Homo sapiens: one gene and its partner. The protein of the gene in region 1 purifies or fractionates together with the protein of each later gene. This does not show direct contact. Each region holds a gene or a part of one and is shown on either strand. Other genes may lie near its edges. The genes, in order: ZNF687 and ZMYND8.

The links.
Region 2: the proteins of ZNF687 (region 1) and ZMYND8 purify together in Homo sapiens (affinity purification with mass spectrometry; 4 studies listed by BioGRID and IntAct, with this or other methods). This does not show direct contact.

Annotation. Positions count from the first base shown.
Region 1 is NC_000001.11:151,276,511-151,286,989, forward strand, and holds the start of ZNF687 (zinc finger protein 687), read left to right. Parts: upstream 1-5,788; 5' UTR 5,789-5,885; exon of another isoform or gene 5,886-5,900; intron 5,901-6,022; exon of another isoform or gene 6,023-6,049; coding exon of another isoform or gene 6,050-6,072; intron 6,073-6,677; coding exon of another isoform or gene 6,678-6,808; intron 6,809-8,695; exon of another isoform or gene 8,696-9,564; intron 9,565-9,764; coding exon of another isoform or gene 9,765-9,781; coding exon 9,782-10,479. UniProt on the Homo sapiens protein: May be involved in transcriptional regulation.
Region 2 is NC_000020.11:47,345,395-47,355,133, reverse strand, and holds part of ZMYND8 (MYND-type zinc finger-containing chromatin reader ZMYND8), read left to right. Parts: intron 1-500; exon of another isoform or gene 501-2,129; intron 2,130-2,393; exon of another isoform or gene 2,394-2,573; intron 2,574-3,384; exon of another isoform or gene 3,385-3,424; intron 3,425-3,855; exon of another isoform or gene 3,856-3,940; intron 3,941-5,145; exon of another isoform or gene 5,146-5,244; coding exon of another isoform or gene 5,245-5,273; intron 5,274-7,207; coding exon 7,208-7,278; intron 7,279-9,739. UniProt on the Homo sapiens protein: Chromatin reader that recognizes dual histone modifications such as histone H3.1 dimethylated at 'Lys-36' and histone H4 acetylated at 'Lys-16' (H3.1K36me2-H4K16ac) and histone H3 methylated at 'Lys-4' and histone H4 acetylated at 'Lys-14' (H3K4me1-H3K14ac).

The DNA of each region.
Region 1 (10,479 bases):
CCGGCCCATTCCTGCTGATTTAAATATCCAGGTAAATGAATCTTCCAGGCCACTGGCCTCTCAGTCTCTTGATCTCCCCTCCTAGTCCATTCCTCTCTCCTGAATGCCTATTTCCTATCTTTTTGCTCCTCAAATTCCTAGTTTCTTCTTCATCCTCACTCTTAGAGAGTGATCTTGATTTTTTATTCCCACGAAGAGTTTGACAACACATGTTCTTGTTTCTTATACCACTGGACAACAGAAGCAACAAAGAGATATCCCACAGCTCCCCAGCTCCCTCGACCCATGCCCGCTCACTCTGCCTTCTCTCCCAATTATTATTCGGGAACTGTCCCTGCCCCTGTGTAAGGCAATTCCTCTGTTTGTGAACTTGACCCTCTCGCTCACCTTCTGAAGAACATGACTCCAGAAACTTTCCCTATCGCTCTGCTACAACTTCGGTTTTTCCTGTCTACAGGATCCTCCCCACCCGTGTACTGACATACAACTTCTTCATCTTCAAACAGTCCTTTCCTTGGGTCAGTAGAACCTGATGAGAAAAAAATGTAACCATTAAAAGAAATAGTCCTCTTGGTCACTCTTTTTCCTCTAGTTACCATCTTTTTTCTCCTTCCTTCCTTTGAAAGAGTTTTATAGTGACTTTTCTTTTTTCCTCCTCCATTCTTGTAAACCCATTCCATGAAGGCTTTTGTCCCCACCAGTCCATCAACTCTCTCCTCATCATGATCACCAGTGACCTCCATTTTGCCTTAATCCATTGGTCAATTCTCAGGTTTCATCCTATTTGATATTTTAGTGGCATCTGACTATCATTCTCTCTTCCTCTTTCTTGAGATACTTTTTAAATTTAGCTTGAAGGTTACAACACTCTCCTGGTTCCTTCCTTCCTCTTTGCTGTTCTTCTCATCTCCTTGACCTTTTAACTTCGGAGTTTCCCATGCCTCAATCCTCCCTTGGTGATCTCATCCATTCTGACCTGGGTTTTAAATACTATCTATAAGCTGATGACACCTACATTTGTATCTCCACTTGGATGTGTAATACCTCAACATGACTAAAACTGAGCTACCGACCTAACCCCTAAAACCTGCATCTCCTGTAGTCTTCTCAGCTCAAGAAATGGGGCAACATCATGCTTCTACTTCCTCAGCCTCCATGCTTTGGAGTCTTTTTCTTTCTTCCACACCCCACTTTCAACCCTTTTAAAACGTTTAAGTCAGGCCACCATGTCATCTGTCTCCTTTTGATGGCTTTCTAACCCACCGTGAGAAAATGCCAAAGACCTTCCCATAGCTTCCAAAGCATCCCATGACCCAATTCACTCCTCCCACCCCCTCTGGAACACACTCCCCTCCTGAGGACCTTGTACTTGTTCTTTCCTCCTGGAATGTTCTTGTCCCAGATAGCTGCATGGCTCACTCCCTCATCTCTTTCAGACCTTTACTTAACCACCATCTTCTCGAAAAGGCCTTTACTGTCCACCCTACCTAAAATTGCAACCCTCCCACACTTACTGTCATCTTTCCTTGCTTTTGTTTTTGTTTTTTTGAGACAGAGTCTTGCTCTGTCACCCAGGCTGGAGTGTGGTGGTGCGATCTCGGCTCAATGCAACTTCTGCCTCCCGGGTTCAAGCGATTCTCCTGCCTCAGCCTCCCAAGTAGCTGGGACTATAGGCGTGTGCCACCATGACCAGCTAATTTTTTGTATTTTTAGTAGAGACAGGGTTTCACCATGTTAGCCAGAATGGTCTTGATCTCCTGACCTCATGGTCCACCCGCCTCGGCCTCCCAAAGTGCTGGGATTACAGGCATGAGCCACTGCGCCCAGCCGCCTGCTTTGTTTTTTTTTTTAAATTGTTTTTGTTTTTAAATTAATACACTTTATTTTTTACAGCATTTTTAGGTTTACAGAAAAATTGAGCACAAAATGCGAGTTCCCACACATCCTCTCTCTCCAGTTTCCCCTATTATTATTATTATTTTGAGACAAGGTCTTGGTCTTTTGCCCAGGCTGGGGTGTAGTGGTGTGATTACAGCTCACTGCAACCTTGACCTCCAGGGCTCAGGTGATTCTCCCTCCTCAGCCTCCCAAGTAGCTGGGACCACAGGTGTGCACCACCATGCCACGCTACTTAAAAAAAAGTTTTTTTGTAGAGATGGGGTCTCTCCATGTTGCTCAGGTTACTCTATTATTTATTAATATCTCGCATTAGTGTGGTACATTTGTTACAATTGATGAACCAATATGGAAACATTATTATTAAGAGACAGGGTCTCACTTTGTTGCCCAGGCTGGAGTGCGGCAGCAGGATCGTAGCTCACTGCAGCCTCAAACTTCTGGGCTCAAGGGACTCTCCTGCTTCAGCCACTTGAGTAGTTGGGACTACAGGTGTGCGCCACTGTACGCGGCTAATTTTTCAAATTTTTTGTTGATCCTCCCGCTTTGGCCTCCCAAAGTTCAGGGATTACATGTGTGAGCCACCATGCTCACAGGGTTCACTCTTTGTGTTGTACATTCCATGGCTGTTGACACATGTATCCACTATTACAGTATCACATAGAATAGTTTCAGTGTTGTAAGAGTCCCCTGTGCTCCATTTATTTATTCATCTCTCTCCCTCCACCTGAACCCTCAGCAACCAACCACTGATCTTTTTACTCTCTATAGTTTTGCCTTTTCTAGAATGTCACATAGCTGGAATCATACAGCATGCAACCTTTTCAGATTGGCTTCTTTCACTTAGTCATATGCATCGAAGATTCCTCTGTCTTTGCATGGCTTGATAACTCTATTTTATTCCTTGGCAGCTACCATTTCTAATATTTATTGTTTGTCTTCTCTTTAGGAATGTGTGTTTCATGACAGGGCTTCTTGTCTGCTTTGTTCATTGCTACATCTCCAGTACCTGAAATAGTACCTCCTTCCATGGTTGTGGTAAGGACTACGTGAGTTATTAATAATATGTTTATTAATAAAATAAATAAAGTTTTTCTGTGTGTGTGTGTTTTTTTTTTTTTTTTTTTTGAGACAGAGTCTCGCTCTGTCTCCCAGGTTGGAGTGCAGTGGTGCGATCCCGGCTCACTGTAGTTTTGACTTCCTGGACTCAAGCGATCCTTCCATCCCAGCCTCCCCAGTAGCTGGGATCACAGGTGCCTGCCAACACCCCTGGCTAATTTTTTTTTCCAAATATTCTGTAGAGGCAGAGTCCTGCTGTGTTGCACAGGCTAGTCTCGAACTCCAGGGCTCAAGTGAGCTACCCACCTAGACTTCTCAAAGTGCTGGGATTACAGGCGTGAGCCCCCCAAAATATTATGTGTATATGAGTAGTAATTGTTATTCCGCATAGGGAGACCAGAAGAGGAGGTGGAAATGGAATGCCGGTTGGTTACATCGGGTTAGGGACCTTTAATTAGTTGCTCAGAGAAGGAACAGCACCTGAGCAAATGCACAGGATGCAAGGCTCCGGGAGAAAGGGCACACTAATCCCAACTGCCAATTACTTTACAAAGCGTGTTTACATTCTAAACTCATTTAATTCTCACAAAAATAATATTGTCAGGTGGGTATTATAATCCCCGTTTTACTCATGAGAAAACAGGATCTGGGAGGTTGAGCGACTTGCCCATTGCGACCATAGGGCAAGTGGTGGCTCCAGGATTCCCATCCAGAAGTTCTGATTCATACTTCAAAGGAGCTCGGAAACTCTCCGGGTGCGCCGGGGAGTCCTGGTTCCGGTGTCCTGGGACTCCTGGGCAGGGTAACGAAACCACTTTTAAAAACTTTGCCGGGCCCGGTGGGTCACATCTGTAATCCCAGCACTTTGGGAGGCCAAGGCGGATGGATGATTTGAGGTCAGGAGTTCGAGACCAGCCTGGCCAATGCGGTGAAACCCCGTCTCTACTAAAAATACAAAAATGGCCGGCCGCGGTGGCTCATGCCTGTAATCCCAGCACTTTGGGAGGCCGAGGCGGGCGGATCACGAGGTCAGGAGATCAAGACTATCCTGGCTAACACGGTGAAACCCCGTCTCTACTAAAAACACAAAAAATTAGCCGGGCATTGTGGAGAGCGCCTGCAGTCCCAGCTACTCGGGAGGCTGAGGCAGGAGAATGGCGTGAACCCGGGAGGCGGAGCTTGCAGTGAGCCGAGATCGCGCCACTGCACTCCAGCCTGGGCGACACAGCGAGACTCCGTCTCAAAAAAAAAAAAAAAAGAAAAAAACAAAAATTAGCCGGGCGGGTAGTGTCGCACACCTGTAATCCCAGCTGGTCGGAAGGCTGAGGCAGGAGAATTGCTTGAGCCTGGGAGACGGAGGTTGCCGTGAGCCGAGATCCCGCCACTGCACTCCAGTCTGGACGACAGAATGAGGCCCCGTTTCAAAAAATAAAAAATAAAAAACTTCGCCAAGGTAGGGAGTAGTGGCTCACGTCTGTAGGATTGCTTGAGACCAGCCTGGGCAACATGGCAAAACCCTGTCTCTTCAAAAAATAAAAAAGTTAGCAGGGCGATTTGGCGCTCACTTGTAGTCCCAGCTACTCAGGAGGCTGAGGCGGGAGGATCACTGGAGCCTGGGAGGTTGAGGCTGCAGTCAGCCGTGATCGCGCCACTGTGCTCCCGCCTGGGCAGCAGAGTGAGGCTCTGCCTCAAAAAAATTAATTAAAAAATAAAAACACGCCGTTAACGAGCGGCTGCGTGCGCGAGGTGGCACACTGGGCTTGCATACGAATTCTGCCAGTGAGTGCTATTAGAGCATCAAGGAGATTCATTTTCCGAGCGACTCCTCCCTTTCCCCCGCCTCCAGGGGGCGTGGCAACAAAGCGCGGGAAAACTCGACCTTGACCCCACCCCCACTCCATGCTGGGGGCGGGGAAAAGGGGAGCCCTTAAATGGGAAATGGAGCTGGCGGTTCCCCCCCCAGCCCATACTTAGGACGCCTATCAGTTGCTCCTTTAATGCCTCTTTGGAAATGGCCCGGCCACGCCAGCACTCCTACGTCACCTCCCCCGCTTCCGGTCCGCGAGCCCTTCCCAACCTTTAGGTCCCGATTCCTTCCATGCTCCAAATCCCGTGCCCCGTCCACGCCCTCCCGCAGAGGGAGGAGCGACGGGTTACGCTGTCGCCCAGGAGCTGAACCGCGCGAGGACCCCATCCATCAGATTATATGGCGATTTAGACGGTGGGAAGACCGCAAGGAAATGGTCAGCGGATGACGTAATGTTTGGGGTGGCGTCCCATTCTGTAACTTCTGTACGGCATCAGTGACACGGGTTTAGCTTGAAACAGCGCAAAAGGACCTACACTTCTGTGCTCCACTCCGACTCAATGCGGTTCTGCTCTCAGTGCCCACCACACAGAAGCTGGGTTCCTTACATTCGCGAAAGTGAACTGCAGCTTCAAGCTTCGAGCGGCCAGTAGGGAGCGAGGGGCGGAGACGCACCTGGGTGCTCCCCCTTCCAGTAGGCAAGCTGGGAAGCAGGCTGGCTTCTTTCTAAGCGACAGTGGCGGAGGCCAATCGTTTACGAGACTCGTAGATGGGGCAGACGGACCCCGGCGCAGCCAATGGGGAGAGGTATCTTCAGAGGGCCTCGGCCCCTTGCCCAATGAGCATAAGAGGACTGTGCGGGGCTAGTTCCGAGCGGCAGTATTTAGGGCCAACCCAGTGCGGGGCTGGAAGGGGCACAGGGCTGAGCGACGGGGGCAAGGGCCAATGGCGAGTGCGAAAACGGGCAGCCCAGACCTGGAGCGCGGAGGGAGGAGAGGGAGTGGGGAGGCCGAACCGGAGAGAAGCAGGAAGTAGCGGCGGCCGCGGGGAGGGCGGCGGTGGCTGCAGCGGCTGGAGCGGGGTAGAGACCGCCGGGTCTCGGCCCGCACCAGGAGCGGAACAAGTAAGCGTGCCTGGGGTAAATACCCGCCCTTGGCTCCGCCCCCTTGGGGGGGGCGGGTAAATACCCCCGCCCCTCCCCCACTTGGTCAACTACCCCCTTCTCCGCGCCGCCCCCTGGGGCGGCTTCTAGGAAGGCCCAGACACCGCCTCCATCCATTGGGGCGGATGGGCGAAACTCCTGGCCTGTTGTAAGCACAGTCCGTAGCCGGGTAAACCCCCAGGAGGGTCGAGAACCCCAGGTCCTGGCGCCCCCGGCTCGAGAGGCACCCGAAGTGCGGCCCGGAGATTGAAGGCTGCGGGATGTCGCGACCTAAAATGGTGTCCGTTCCCGGGGATGGGGGCGGGGGACCTGGGCCAGGCCGGAGCAGAACCTGCACCCCGACTGGGTGCGGGTCAGCGTCCGGGCCCGGGCAAGACTCAGGCTTGCGCCCCCGGCCCCCTGCGCACCCCCCGATCAGTCTCCAGTCTCTAGCGAGCCTCCGGGAGTGCGCGGCGGGAGGAGGCTCCGCTGCGCCCGGAGGGGAGGGGACGAGGTCCGAGTTGGGACGGACCCCAGCTAGAGAGCTGAGAGTCGCGCAGAGACCGTCCCCTCTCTCCTCCCCTCTTTCCAGCTCCCCACCCTATCCTGTGTAGTCCTGGGTCCCCAGGTGCTGCGCAGCAGCTCCCAAAGGGCCTGGCCTGGCTGAGGCCCGGCCTTCGCTTCGCACGCCGGTGCGAGTGAGAGAAGGGCCGCGCGCCTCAGTTTCCCTTGTAGTTTCTCATGTGTACACCCCGCCCCCTCCTCGAAACCCAGGACTTGCTCCCCGCGCCAGCCCTCGGCAGATGGCAGGGACTTAATTCCGTCTGCTACCCAGCTTGGCCTCAACCTAATCGCCGCCAGCCCCTCGCCCTCCTCTGCGCTGCAGGCCTTGGGCCCGGGCAAAGGTCAGTGGAGCCCCCACTCGACCTGGGCCTGTTCAGCCTCTTCCTGTTCAGCCTCTTTGGCTTTTGGGGAACCACAGAGGGAAAGGGGGCGGGGGAGATAGGAGCCCTAGAGACAGGGCTCAGCAGTCGCAGGAAGGCCTGATCCTCCTTGGCTTGAGCTTGGCGGCTTGCTTGGTCGACTGTCTGCTCTGGGTGGGTGGCCATCGGATGACCTCTAAGTCACTGGGGCACCCAAGAGGGAGGTGGCTGGCGGGGTGTGGGGGCGGGTGAGTTCGCAGGTGTTTTCTCCTAGTCCCCGCTGGTCTTCGTTGTAGCAGTCCACTTTTCTGAGTACCTGAGTGGAAGGTAGCTCAGGCCTCTGGTCAGGAGGGAACCAGGCTTAGGAGCCAGGCCTATAGAGACAAGGGTTTTTGTTTAAACCCAGATTCTGCAGAATTGAATAGGGTGGGGGTGAGGGGAGGACTCCCCCTTTGGTTTTGCCCCCACCCCAACCTTGGTCCCAGCAATCCCAGCTGCCACTTGCTGGGACTGTCTCTAGTTACAGTCTGAAGACTGGAGAGAGGTGGGAGAGCTGGCTGGGAAATGGCCTGCAACCTGGGCAGGGAATGGATAGGGATAGACTCTTTAGTTGCTTCTTCGTAGATACAGAAACACTCATGGGGAGACACTGGTAGGGGACAGACCTGGGTCTCCCACAAACTCTGAGCTGGCCTGCTTGTTGGATTAGTGCCACATAATTCTTGTGGGATTTTTAATTTTATTTTTTGCACTTGGCCAGGTTGAGGCTAGGTGAAACTTCCTGGGCTACTGTTGCCACAGGAAAATGGAAAGGGTGAGGAGTTAAAGTTAGGGGATGGAATGGGGTGAGGAGCTTGGAGCAGAAATGATGGGTGAGGGTTGAGGGAGCCTGGCTTTTTCCCACTGTGGCAGCTGTGCTGGAGAAATGTGTATGTATCTTGGGAGTTTTAGCCTCGGGAAAGCAAGATGGGGAGGGGTGGAGAAGGAAGGGCTGGCTAGGGGAGGGCCAGGCACTCTGGGGAAGGTAGTGAGCGAGCAGCAGGTGTTTGTGACAGGAGAGGTCTAGGCTGGGGCCCTTGTGACCAGGCTGCCATCACCATTTTCCCCTCTGTCTCTTCTCTTTGTCTCTTTCTGTTCCTGTGTCTTATTCTTTCCATCTTGGTCTCTTGGGTAATTTCCTTGAGTCCTTTTCTCCCTGCTGACCAAGCTAGATCTCCAGGTGCCAGTGATGGCCCAGGTGCCCTAGACTTGATCCTGCATGACCCCTGACTCTTGCCTCCGACCCCAGCCCTAGAGTTCCAGTGCTTATTCCTTTCCAGTTCCTCCTTGACCTGACATGTCCTTGCTTGGTTCATCTGGAATAGTAAATCGTATTCTTGGTGGGATTCTTACATTAGCAATTTTGTATTATGCTCAGAATAACCCTATGATACATAGATCACTTGTGCTCTCTGCCTTGTCTTGTCTTTTTTTTTTTTTTTTTTTTTTTTTTTGAGACGGTATCACTCTGTCACCCAGGCTGGAGTGCAGTGGCATGATCATGGCCCATCACAGCCTCGACCTCCCGGGCTCAGGGGATCCTCCCATGTCAGCTGGGAGGCATAGCTGGGACTACAGGCACGTGCCATCATGCCTGGGGAGTTTCACCATGTTGCCCAGGGTGGTCTTGAACTCCTGGGCCCAAGTGATTGGCCTCCCAAAGTGCTGGGATTACAGATGTGAGCCACCACACCCGGCCATTTGTGTCCTCTTTCAAACAGCAAAAGTAAGGCACTGAAGAAACTTGCTTGTACTGCACGCCCCTGATAAAGCTGAACGAGGATCATTTCTTAAGTCTTGGCTTATGGCATTGTCCCTTTGTACATGCAGCCTTTCAGATCTGTGTGGACCCCAGAAGATCCGTGAAGAATATGAATTGATTCCATGCGGACATGAATGAGTCCTTAAACCTAGAACATCATGTACATCATCCTCCTTAATAATAGTATTGATTATTTGGTTCTATGCTGGGGACCGGAGGGGATGAGATGGTTTCCACCAGAATGCTCACTGAGCTCTATTACCCTTCCCTGTTCCCTGTATTTTTTTTTTTTTTCTGAGACAGTCTTGCTCTGTCGCCCAGGTGGGAGTGCAGTGGCACGATCTCAGCTCACTGCAAACTCCACCTCCCAGGTTCAAGCAATTCTTCTGCCTCAGCCTCCCGAGTAGCTGGGACTACAGGTGTGTGCTGCCATGCCCAGCTAATTTTTGTATTTTTAGTAGAGACGGGGTTTCACTATCTTGGCCAGGATGGTCTTGATCTCCTGACCTCGTGATCCGCCCGCCTCTGCCTCCCCAAGTGCTGGGATTACAGGCGTGAGCCACCATGCCCAGCCCCCTATATTTCTTTTTTTTGAGACAGGGTCTCGCTCTGTCCAGGCTGGAGTGCAGTGGCGTGATCTTGGCTCATTGAAACCTCAACCTCATGGGTTCAGGCGATTCTCCTGCCTCAGCCTCCTTTGTAGCTGCGATTACAGGCATGTGCCACCACACCTGTCTAGTTTTTTGTATTTTTAGTAGAGACAAGGTTTCACCATGTTGGCCAAGCTGGTCTCAAACTCCTGACCTCAAGTGATCCATCTGCCTCAGCCTCCCAAAACGCTGGGATTACAAGCATGAGCCACCGCACCTGGCCCCTTCCCTGTATTTCTAAGAACTCTCTTTTCCCCTGCTTTCTCTGGATTTTGGAGCCCACCAAGGTATGGACACTAATCCTCTTCTGATTTTAAGGTTTGGCAAACCTAGCAGCTCTGTAGGATTCATGCCGTGGCGGAGGTGTACCTAAGTTGGAGTGTATGTGGGTTCTGAGAGAGGATAAATATGGAGATGCTGAGGGAAGAGCTCCAGGATCTCTCTTCTAGACATCTCAGTTTCTCCTCCTCGTTCCTGTTTTCATCAGGTCTGGGATCTGCCGATATGGGGGATATGAAGACCCCTGATTTTGATGACCTCCTTGCTGCCTTTGACATCCCTGACATTGATGCGAATGAAGCCATCCATTCTGGGCCAGAAGAAAATGAGGGGCCTGGAGGCCCAGGGAAGCCAGAACCAGGTGTAGGAAGTGAATCTGAAGACACAGCAGCAGCCTCTGCTGGGGATGGCCCTGGAGTTCCAGCCCAGGCCTCTGACCATGGCCTGCCACCGCCAGACATTTCTGTAGTCAGTGTCATTGTCAAGAACACTGTGTGTCCCGAGCAGTCTGAGGCCCTGGCTGGAGGCTCAGCAGGAGACGGGGCCCAGGCTGCTGGGGTAACTAAAGAAGGGCCTGTGGGGCCTCATCGAATGCAGAATGGTTTTGGGAGCCCTGAACCTTCCCTCCCAGGAACTCCCCACTCTCCTGCTCCTCCCAGTGGGGGCACCTGGAAAGAAAAAGGCATGGAAGGCAAAACTCCCTTGGACCTGTTTGCTCATTTTGGCCCTGAGCCAGGGGACCACTCAGATCCGCTGCCTCCCTCTGCACCCTCTCCCACTCGGGAGGGGGCTCTGACCCCGCCTCCTTTCCCCTCTTCCTTTGAGCTGGCCCAGGAGAATGGCCCAGGCATGCAGCCACCTGTTTCTTCCCCACCATTGGGGGCCTTGAAGCAGGAGAGCTGCAGCCCCCATCATCCCCAGGT
Region 2 (9,739 bases), on another chromosome or scaffold:
TGCTTGTGAAATGTCATGAAACTGCTTGTTCTTAGAGGTGCAGAGCCCTAAAAACATTGGTGGTGTAGAAGCTGGTGGTGGTGGTGGTATGTGTGTGTTGGGGGGGTGGTGTCAGTGTGCTCATGTTTTAGGACTTATGTATAGTGCAAAATCTCATCTACCACCAGACTGGGTTTGATTCAGGACTCACTGACCAACACATTTTGGCCTTTTTTCAGGTCTCCTCCACACATCTGTATGCATGCTGGCCCCACATAAGATTTCTCACTTTTTACATTTCCCTTGACCACTTAAGGCTGCAGCTAGAAGTTAAGTGGGAAAAGTAGAGTCTTGTTTAGCAGTACCTTCAGAATTTCCCTAGAAGTTCAGTACATAAATTTTCAGCTTGGAGACCAATCCGACATGACCGTAAATGCAGGAAATATATTCAATTGCTGTGTTATGTCAACTTTATGGAGTCAGTAATCTTTTTTCTTTCAAATGAGTGTCCAGTAGCCCACTTTCTGACACCGAATTGGAAAAAGGCTCATTTAATCAGCAGAAACGTACCACATTCTAAGTTGAGAAAAGTCTGTGCAAGGCAGGCCAGCTTAGCTTCTTAGAGTAAAACTGCAGGCAGTTAATGATGTTATATACTTAAAACTGAACAGTGCCACTGCCCCAAACAAGTAAGTTCAGACACTCAGCTATTTTCTTTGTTCTTATCTCCTTGCTGTAAATGGAAATTACATATCGAGGTTCTTGTGGCCTCCCTAGAAGCAATATCTAATCATAAGACTCCTGGTTTGGTGCCTTCAACGTTTGCATAATACTGTGTTTGTTGGGCTGGAAGGGAACTTAAGGGCAAGGCATTTGTCCTCTAAAAGCTTGCATTAAAATGGCTCCCACAGGTTTGGAGAGCCAAGATCTGTTTTCAAATGTACAGCCCCCAGCAAGTTCCCAACCCTGGACCAAGCTAGCCACTTTTCCTCTGGTACTGTGACCCCTACCAAGCATGAGTCTGTAAAAAGTTAATTGCTTTCAAAGTAGCATTATTTTCCAGTTTCAGGAAAGGGGGAAAAAAATAAATGTCTGCATTGCAGCAGGACTAGGTAGGGACGGCAGTACTGGCTCCCAGAGCAGCCCAATGGGGTTCTTCTACTCTAGCTTTTAAACCAATAGACTTGGAGGAAAGGTTAAAGATTGACAATTGCAGTGGCCGAACTAAGAACGGGCCTTCTGGAAATTTCTACCATCTTTGTTCCTTTTAGGAAAAGCAGATCTGCCAAGCAGAAGCGTCTCCTACCTTCCATTCCTAGGTCATCTCCCTTCCCTGCTTCCCCCCAACCCCCCTTCTTTTTCTCATCAAGGTAGAATGTTCTCTCTGCCACGTTTGTAAATTGCAGAAGGAGGAACAGAATGTTGGGCTGTTTTCCTTTTTCCTTCTGCCTCCTCAGTCCCCAAAGAGGATACACAGCTGCAAGGAGCAAACACAGACACACTGAAGCTTTTGATTCCTCTCCTTTTTTTTCCTTCAAGACCCTCCAGGATGGATTCACTTTCTGCTTTGGGAAATTAAGTGGCATTCACGTGGGGGAGGGGGAGTAACTGCTTTTATTAGCTCCAGAAAATGGTCAGTGTTCAGTCTGTAACTAGGAATTAATTATATATAATCACTCAGTAAACTTTCTACAGAGTTTTTCTAATTGCTGAGCCTGATCATAGTTAGCCCGTTGGCGCCAAGTCCAGTTACTTTTATAATTAACAGCTCAAAGATTTGAGTCAGAAAGAAACAATTGGGGGCCTCTTGGATTATAAATTAGGGATGAAAACAATAGCTTTTTTTCCTTTCTTTCTTGTCATCCCTTTTATTTTCAACAAAACATTTCCCCTTTTCTTTCCCTGGGAGAACCAGTGGGGAGACTGCATCAGGTCTTAAATAGGATGAGGGGGGAGACACTTTTTAGGAAGTGGGGTGACAGTAACCTAGAAAACCCTGGAGGCAAAGGTAGGTTTTTAAAAGTCCAGCCACTTGCAACGCGTGATGTCTTTGTTTCTTTTGCCCTCTTTCCCCTTCTCTCTCCTGTGGCAGAGGCAGCAGACATTTGTCAGCCTGGGAACCCTCAATCTGGCTTTGCCTCTGGTTGACTCTGGAAAGAAAGATACATTCAAAGGGGCCTTCGCTACTGCACAGCAGAGATTTAAAAAGGGAATATGTTTCAGAACCCTTTGGTTACTCTTAAAATGCAAGATCTGAGCAAGGGTTCACCCTTGGCTTCAGGTTGCTAAGGTTATGGTCACCCTCCCCGCTACTTCCCACTCTCCTTGCAGACAAACAAACAGGCAGTGGCCATGCCAGCTCTGCAGCCAGTGTGCTGCCAGCCTGTCCCCCCCATCCCGATTACCTTACCTACCGGCCGGCGGGGGCCAGTGGCCCGTCCTTGCCCTGGCATGGCCTTGGGCACTGTGCCCTCCTTTCTCCCCTGGAGCTAAAAAGCAGTCACCTTGAAACTCCTCACTCCCAGCACCAGAGGAGTTCTGAGGCCAATGCTCAGACCTGTAACAGTAAATGACGTTATCCACTCAGGCTGTTAGTTCGGCCTCTGAAAGCGGGTTTTGCAAAACCCATTGTTAATTCTCAGGCTCTGTTGGGGGTGGTCAGAAATCTAATTTGTGAGTATCCTGTGCATTGGATAAGGGAATGTTTTCCTTGTGTTTCTCCTCTGCAGACTCGGATTGTCTTTCCTTGATGTTAACTGTCTTAGGACTGGCTGCTTCAGAGGGCTGGGTATTTGGTGGCTGTTTGCAGGCTTATAAACAGCCTTTTTATTTTACCTTTGCCGTAGACTGAGGTGCAGCCCTTTAGCTTGGCTTTTCAGATGCCTGCTGTCCTTGAAGCACTTTCATTTTACCTAGCGCCTTTTTGGTATGGATGCAAAGCTGGTTTCTAATAGACTGAGAAGAGAAGGGGGACCGGGCTTCCTCCTTGCCTTCCCCCAGGCTGCTCCCTGGGAACATTTTTGTGTTTGCACAGACACCTGTCCGTCTGCAGTTTGTGCCACGGGGCTGCACGATTCCTAACCTTCTACCCACCTAATTTGAGGGCAAGGGGGCCTCATCACAGAGCCTCATGTTGAAGGCTCAGGATCTACAAGAGAAGGCTTTTCCTTAGGAACCTGTGACTTCACAAACTCTCCCTGTCATTGCAGAGTTTTTTTTAAGCTTCTAAACGTTGGGTTGTTGGTGTCCTTTGGTTCAGCTTTTCCTAGTTCTGGTATTTAGGAAGGTGGCTTTGAAACTCGCAGGGCTGCTTAAACAAGAGCTACAGCTATTGAACAAACTGCTACCATTTTAGCTTCAACACAGGAATGAGGCAGTGTTGCCAGACGCCATTTTAAGAATCCTGCATAAATAGCTTAGCTACCGATGACTCTGCCTGTTTTAGGTGAGTGCTTATATAAAGCTGCTCTGCTAACCATTCCCCCCCACCCCAATTTCTTAAAAAATTAATTGTAGATTTAGGGAAGCATGGTTTTTAATTTTGATGTTCACTATTTTGTAATCTAGAAGAGGAAGATGTTATGCCTTGGGGATTAAATATTTCTTACAGCCTGGACCATTTTGGTATTTTGAATGAAAAGTAAAAACCAGGAAAAGTCCTTTCGAATGATGCATGATTCTTGAATTGCTGTGCGATGATCCTCATCTGTAGAACCAGAGTCTTGTGCATGTTGGTTATATATTCTAGATGGCTTAGATACTCTTCTTTAAAAGTCAAATAGTAGGGGCACTTGGGGAAAAGAAATATGTGGGCATTGTGTATTCAGGCATTTTTCTGTCAAAACTAGATGCTTTCTTTTTTCTCTCTCTTGGAAGTGTTGAGGAGATGAGATTCCTGGGAATTACGGACCATCCCTGAGTCCTCAGAATTAACAATCAGAAGGCTTAAAGCATCCTGGAGGTGCAGTAGTTCATCTGCAACTTTTAATTGCTCTTTTTTCAGTGCATGCAGGTTAAGAAGTAAGCATAGGTTTTCTTGCTCAGGCACTGGGGGAGAAATCTTTTATTCTTTTTGGGATGGGATGGGGTGGTCTTGGTTATCTTTGCAGGTACTGTTATTTCTTTGAATTGCCTCAAATGTATCAGTTTGTGAAATCTGCAGGCAAATGACTTGGGTAAATGTGAGTGTAAGAGGTGGTGGTGTATACAATGTATCTAACTAGTTGATGGTGTATTTTCCTATTGGAGTGAGAAATTGTTTGCTTTTCAGCTAATTTTACCCTTTTCTGTAGCGGGCCCCCAGTTTCCTCAACAGACCTTTAAAGGGAAAAAAGTAATGTCAGTTTGAAACAAGAGCTTGTTGTCCCATTGTTTTTGATTTAAATCATCAGGGTTGCTGGAAGCTAGCAGATATGGAAGGAAATAAGCTGTCTATGTTCTAAGACTTTAATGTGTTAATGACAGAAGTTCAGAGTATTTTCTCCAGATGCAGCTGCCTTTTCTTTTTAAGAATTATTTGACTGTTTTTTTTCCCCCAAATGACTGAACAGTTCTTAACCTAAATTGACCAACATCAGTGGGGCAATTCAGACAGGTACAGATCTTTTCTTGCGCCTACTTTTGATGTAATATTCATTTTTTTTTCCTAATAACATACTAGTTCTTAACACTAAATCAAAAAAAAACACACACACACACACAAAAAAACCGAAATCAGTGGTGTAGGAAAAAGGAAGTCCCTTTAGATGTGGCTATTCAAAATGACTAATTTTGCATTCTGGTCTTTGCTTTTGTAAATGAAGTTTTTTTTTTTTTTTTTTTTTTTTCTCCTTTTAATGCATAGACACTGCAGTTTCCTTTAGTCAAATACAAGTTAATTGTGTGTGTGAGTGTGCGTGCATGTGTGTGCACGGGTTCCTTTTGAAAGGATGGTTTGCTGATCTGTGAAAAAGATGGTTTTCTTAAATTGTTGTGCTTGAAATGCTGTGCTAAAGCTGGTGGTGCTATTGCTAAAGTTGGGTGATTATGGTGCCCACTTGTAATACTTGGAAAGATAAAACAGCTTAACTTTTTTTTCCCTCTCTCTTCTGCTCCAGCATTGATTATCTTAAAACTCAGAAGCAAATAGCCACCACATAACTAGTTTGCATTTTCCTCGTCTCTCAGCAGCATTCCTGCCTGAAGTATTCAGCTCCTCTAGGCTGTTACAAGCCAAATAATGGTTCCCTTGAATGCAGCCTTCCTCCATGATCAATACACCTTTGAATGTTTTCATCGCTGCAGAAATCCTTCAAGTGGGTTTTTTTTGGCTCAGTTCTGCATAATTGTTTCCCTCACCACTGTAGATTTCAGTTGGATCACAGATTAGCGTTTTCTCTATTACTCAAAATATGGGATCGGTTTCAAGAAGTTTAGAATTTCACATACTTCATGCTAGAGAGGGAAACAGAATTCTAGTTGCTAGAAAAGATCAAGGTTGCTATTTGTTCCTTTGAAGTTAACTGTCTACCCATCTCCGAGGGCTGCATGGGGCTTTTTGTTAAGATGTATTTCCAGTCACCCCAAGCCAGAACCCATCAACAGCATCCAGTTGGACAACCTGTGTATGTTTCAGGCAGAGTGTTTCTGAGTTGAGAATGTTTTCTCCTTAAGTTGGAATAGAAAGCATTAGTGCTGAAATAACCTTCAATAAATCACCGTTGTATTATTGCATATAAGCGATGTGTTTAAATTTAGCAGGCTGCTTTCTCCTGATGAAAACCATTTGTGACAACATGTCAGTTGTTTCTTTGGTGATTTGTGTCACAGGCTTTCTTTACAGATGCGGTGTAAATGAAATTGTTAACGGGGTTCAAAATCAGATGGCTAAATGTGTTAATATTCTCATTTAAACCCAACTACCTTTCTTCGTCTCCAAGCCCCTATAATTTAACTCTGAACTATAATCTTTTCCATTCTATCTAGCTCCCATCCTAAGTCCTCTCCTCCTAACGTGGAACTCTCCTAAAATCTTCTCCTTATACTAGGGTTCGAGACATGAGGCTGTCTTTTTGGGCCTTTTGCGTTGTCACAGTCCCAGACCACGGAACATTCTCTCTTCCCCAGGACAGGACATTCTCTCTTCCCCAGCCTCCTTCCTGTCCTGGCGTTGAGTCTTCCAAATGGAAAATTCCAGCCATATCAATTGGTGATGCACCCATTTCTTCCTGTGGAACGACAGTCTGATGGAATTGCTTCTGGAGTAAATGCCCAGCTTCTTACCACTTCAGTGTCAGCCTGAATGTTTGGAAAGTTCTAGCACCTCAAACCATTTGCATCTATGAAAGCAGAACTCTATTTTTTCCCTTTGGTTTAGCTTGTGAGTTCTCTGTGGGAGGAAGATCTGATATGGCCGGCTCTCTTTCAACCCTAGTTCCAGCAGAGAGAGAGAGAGAATGTTCTGGGTGACGGACCCTCCCAGCAAAGGGGCTTGCTTTATTTGCTTCTCTCCCCAACCCTCCACTCTTAGCCTTTGTCTTTTGAATAATCCTTCCTCATTCCACTTTTGTGGTGGGGGATAATTAGTCACAACTCAGTAGTAAGCCGTGCCTGCTGTAGAGAGGAAGCATTCAGGGGGTTGGAAGTGTGGAGACCCCAGTCTGATTGCTGGAATCAGTGCTCCTCGGTTCAGTGTTTTGAGACCAGGTCTTTAGCTTCTAGCTGGGCATATTTTTCTGCTTTGTAATTTAACCTGTATCTTTTTTTTCCCATGTTCCTGCCTCATCAGGGAATTGTAAGATTTAGGGGGAGGTGTGGGAAATCTTACTCTTTGCCCTAAAGTATTCAGCGATCAGAATTCTGGATACCCTGCAAAACACCTCCAACCTCCCTGCCTTTGAACCCTGTGTTAACAATGAGAAGCTTGTTTATTTGAAGGCTGGGTTCTCATTGGCCCACAGGGGTAGGTTGTAATTGTGTGTCTAAAAAATTGCCTTTTGCATTCCCCAATAGCATGACAACTGGAATAGTAATTTGACTTAAAAAAAAAAAGAACAACCTAGTGTTTTAAAAAACTCCTTTAGGACTCTTCACACTTTGTTGAAATCAGGTGTGGGTTTCCTCCCCCAGCCCTGGATAAGGATGAGGGAATGTCTTTAAGGTGTGTTTGTTGCTAGAACTTCCAAATAGCTGCCCCCATGGGGCAAGTTCTCAGCCTTCCTAAACATGAACATAATTTGCTCTGTTTCAGCTTGGCTGAAGAGGAAATAAAAACAGAACAGGAGGTGGTAGAGGGCATGGATATCTCTACTCGCTCCAAAGGTGAGTAAAAATCTTGTATTATCTATTCTAGAGCTAAGGAGGAAATTGGAATTTCTTTTTGTTGTTGTAGTGCAGTGAAGTGTGTGGCTCTCTGAGCCGACGTTGTAACTCTTCTTGGATTTTCAGATATAAGATTTTTTGATGGATGAACCTAATTGATGGAGAACTCTCCTCCTTTTGGTTTTCTTTCCCTGGTGCCTGTGTAGGGGTCCTGACAGTGAATTTTACCTGTGTGTCATGACTGAGGGTGGCTGGCTACCTCTCCGCAGGGTGACTTTCAGGAGCCACAGTTTAAATAAAGCATGTTCTGGAAGCCACCAGAGCCTCTAGCTGCTGCTCGTTTTCTGATTTTAACAACAGACCTCTTTGGAATCCCAGAAGTGGGATGAAGTCAGCCCGCTTCACTGGAAAGTGGTGGTCTTGGGTTAGAGATAAAAAGGAAATGTAGAGCTTGCTGGGATGCCGGGGCCAGTGTTTGCATTTAGTTCAAAATTTAGCAAATTAGGACAAACACAATTTATGCGTTTATTCACAAGCCTGGAGTAGACTCCTGAATATCTTCTAATTGAGGGATTGGTACTTTTCATTTGGTCTTTGTGAAAGAGATTTTATGAGGCTTCCCAAAATGAAGCAGTTATTCACTTTTACCTTCAGGGTGCTTTCACAAATGAGCTACTGGAGTATTTTTCGTATCTTTGGTTGATGAAAAGGCTCATCTCCAAACTTAATGGTTGTACCAAGGTGTTTTCATTCCTTCAACAAGTCACTGAGTGCTTTCTTGGAACACACAGCCTTGCACTGGGGGTTATGGGGAGGGAGGAAGAGGCTGGACAGGGTTACTGCATACTGCCGGAAGGAGATTCTCATTTGGCTGCAGAGTGTCGCACAAAGTGACTCCCTAAAGGCGTCTGAAACCAAAAGCATTTTGAGGATTGTTACAAGACAGCGTGTCGCCAGGCGTGGTGGCTCATGCCTGTAATCCCAGCACTTTGGGAGGCCAAGGCGGACCATCACGAGGTCAGGCGTTCGAGACCAGCCTGGCCAACATGGTGAAACCCCCGTCTCTACTAAAAATACAAAAATTAGTCGGGCATGGTGGCACGCGCCTGTAATCCTAGCTACTTAGGAGGTTGAGGCAGGAGAATCACTTGAACCTGGGAGGCGGAGGTTGCAGTGAGCTGAGATCGCACCACTGCACTCCAGCCTGGGCGACAGAGCAAGACTCCATCTCAAAAAAAAAAAGACAGTATGTCATTTTGGGGCAAAGTTGAGGGTCCAGTAGTCAAGGCTGGGACCTGGGAAGCAGAAGCTGGCTGCTGATCTCTGGCAGGGGTCACAGAAGGGGAGGCACCCTGGGTGGGAAGGCCTGGCTTACTGGGTGGGTGCTGTGTGCTGGGGAGCAGCAGGAGGAGGCTGGGCGGAGGCAGAGGGCTGCTGCCCCCTCATCACAGCATGACCCAGCCTGTGCTGGGTGGCAGGAAGTTTCAGTGCCATTGATGGTGAAGAGAGCTGAGCCACCAGGGACTTCAGAGCAAGGAAGGTACCTTCTCACAGAGGTGTTTTTGATGTTGCAGGAGCACGTGCCTCTCAGCCACTTCTCAGCCCCCTTGTTGTGGTCAGAATCAAATGTGGTCCAGCAGGAGACGGGGCAAAGTGGAGAGGGACTGAAGAGAGGGGGCCAGGAGGGTGGGGGTCTTGTCCCTGTTCTGCTGCTTACCTTCCCCAGGGGGCTTGGACACTGGCTCTGTCCCTTCATTTTTGTATTTGTGAAGTGGGGTGTTGGATTAGATTCTATCCAAGCATGACCAAGCTGAGTGACCATTGTCTCTTTCTCTCTTTTCTCCTACTCCCATCCTCACCCTTCAGCAGCCAGAATGCGCTTCAAAAACGTGGATTGGGGTCAGGCACAGTGGCGCATGCCAATCATCCCAGCTACTTGAGAGACTGAAGTGGGAGGATCAGTTGAGGCCAGGAGTTTGAAACCAGCCTGGGCAACTTAACGAGACCCCCCCCTCCCGCCCCCATCTCTATTAAAAAAAAAAAAGTGGACAGAGTGCGTTGGCTCACGCCTGTAATCTTAGCACTTTGGGAGGGCGAGGCGGGTGGATTGTCTGAGCTCAGGAGTTCGAGACCAGCCTGGGCAACACGGTGAAACCCCATCTCTACTAAAATACAAAAAAATTATCTGGGCGTGGCAGCATGTGCCTATAATCCCAGTTACTTGGGAGGCTGAAGCAGGAGAATTGCTTGAACCCAGGAGGCGGAGGTTGCAGTGAGCCAAGACCACGCCTTTGCACTCCGGCCTAGGGGACAGAGCGAGACTCCGTCTTAAAAAAAAAAAAAAAAAAAGTGGGTCAGGTTCTGTCTCATTTTGCTAACTCCTTCTGATGATTTTCCAGTACCCTTCCACTCAGGTCTGAAGTCACCGTGACCTGCCTACCTGGGCCGGCCCTGTTTACCT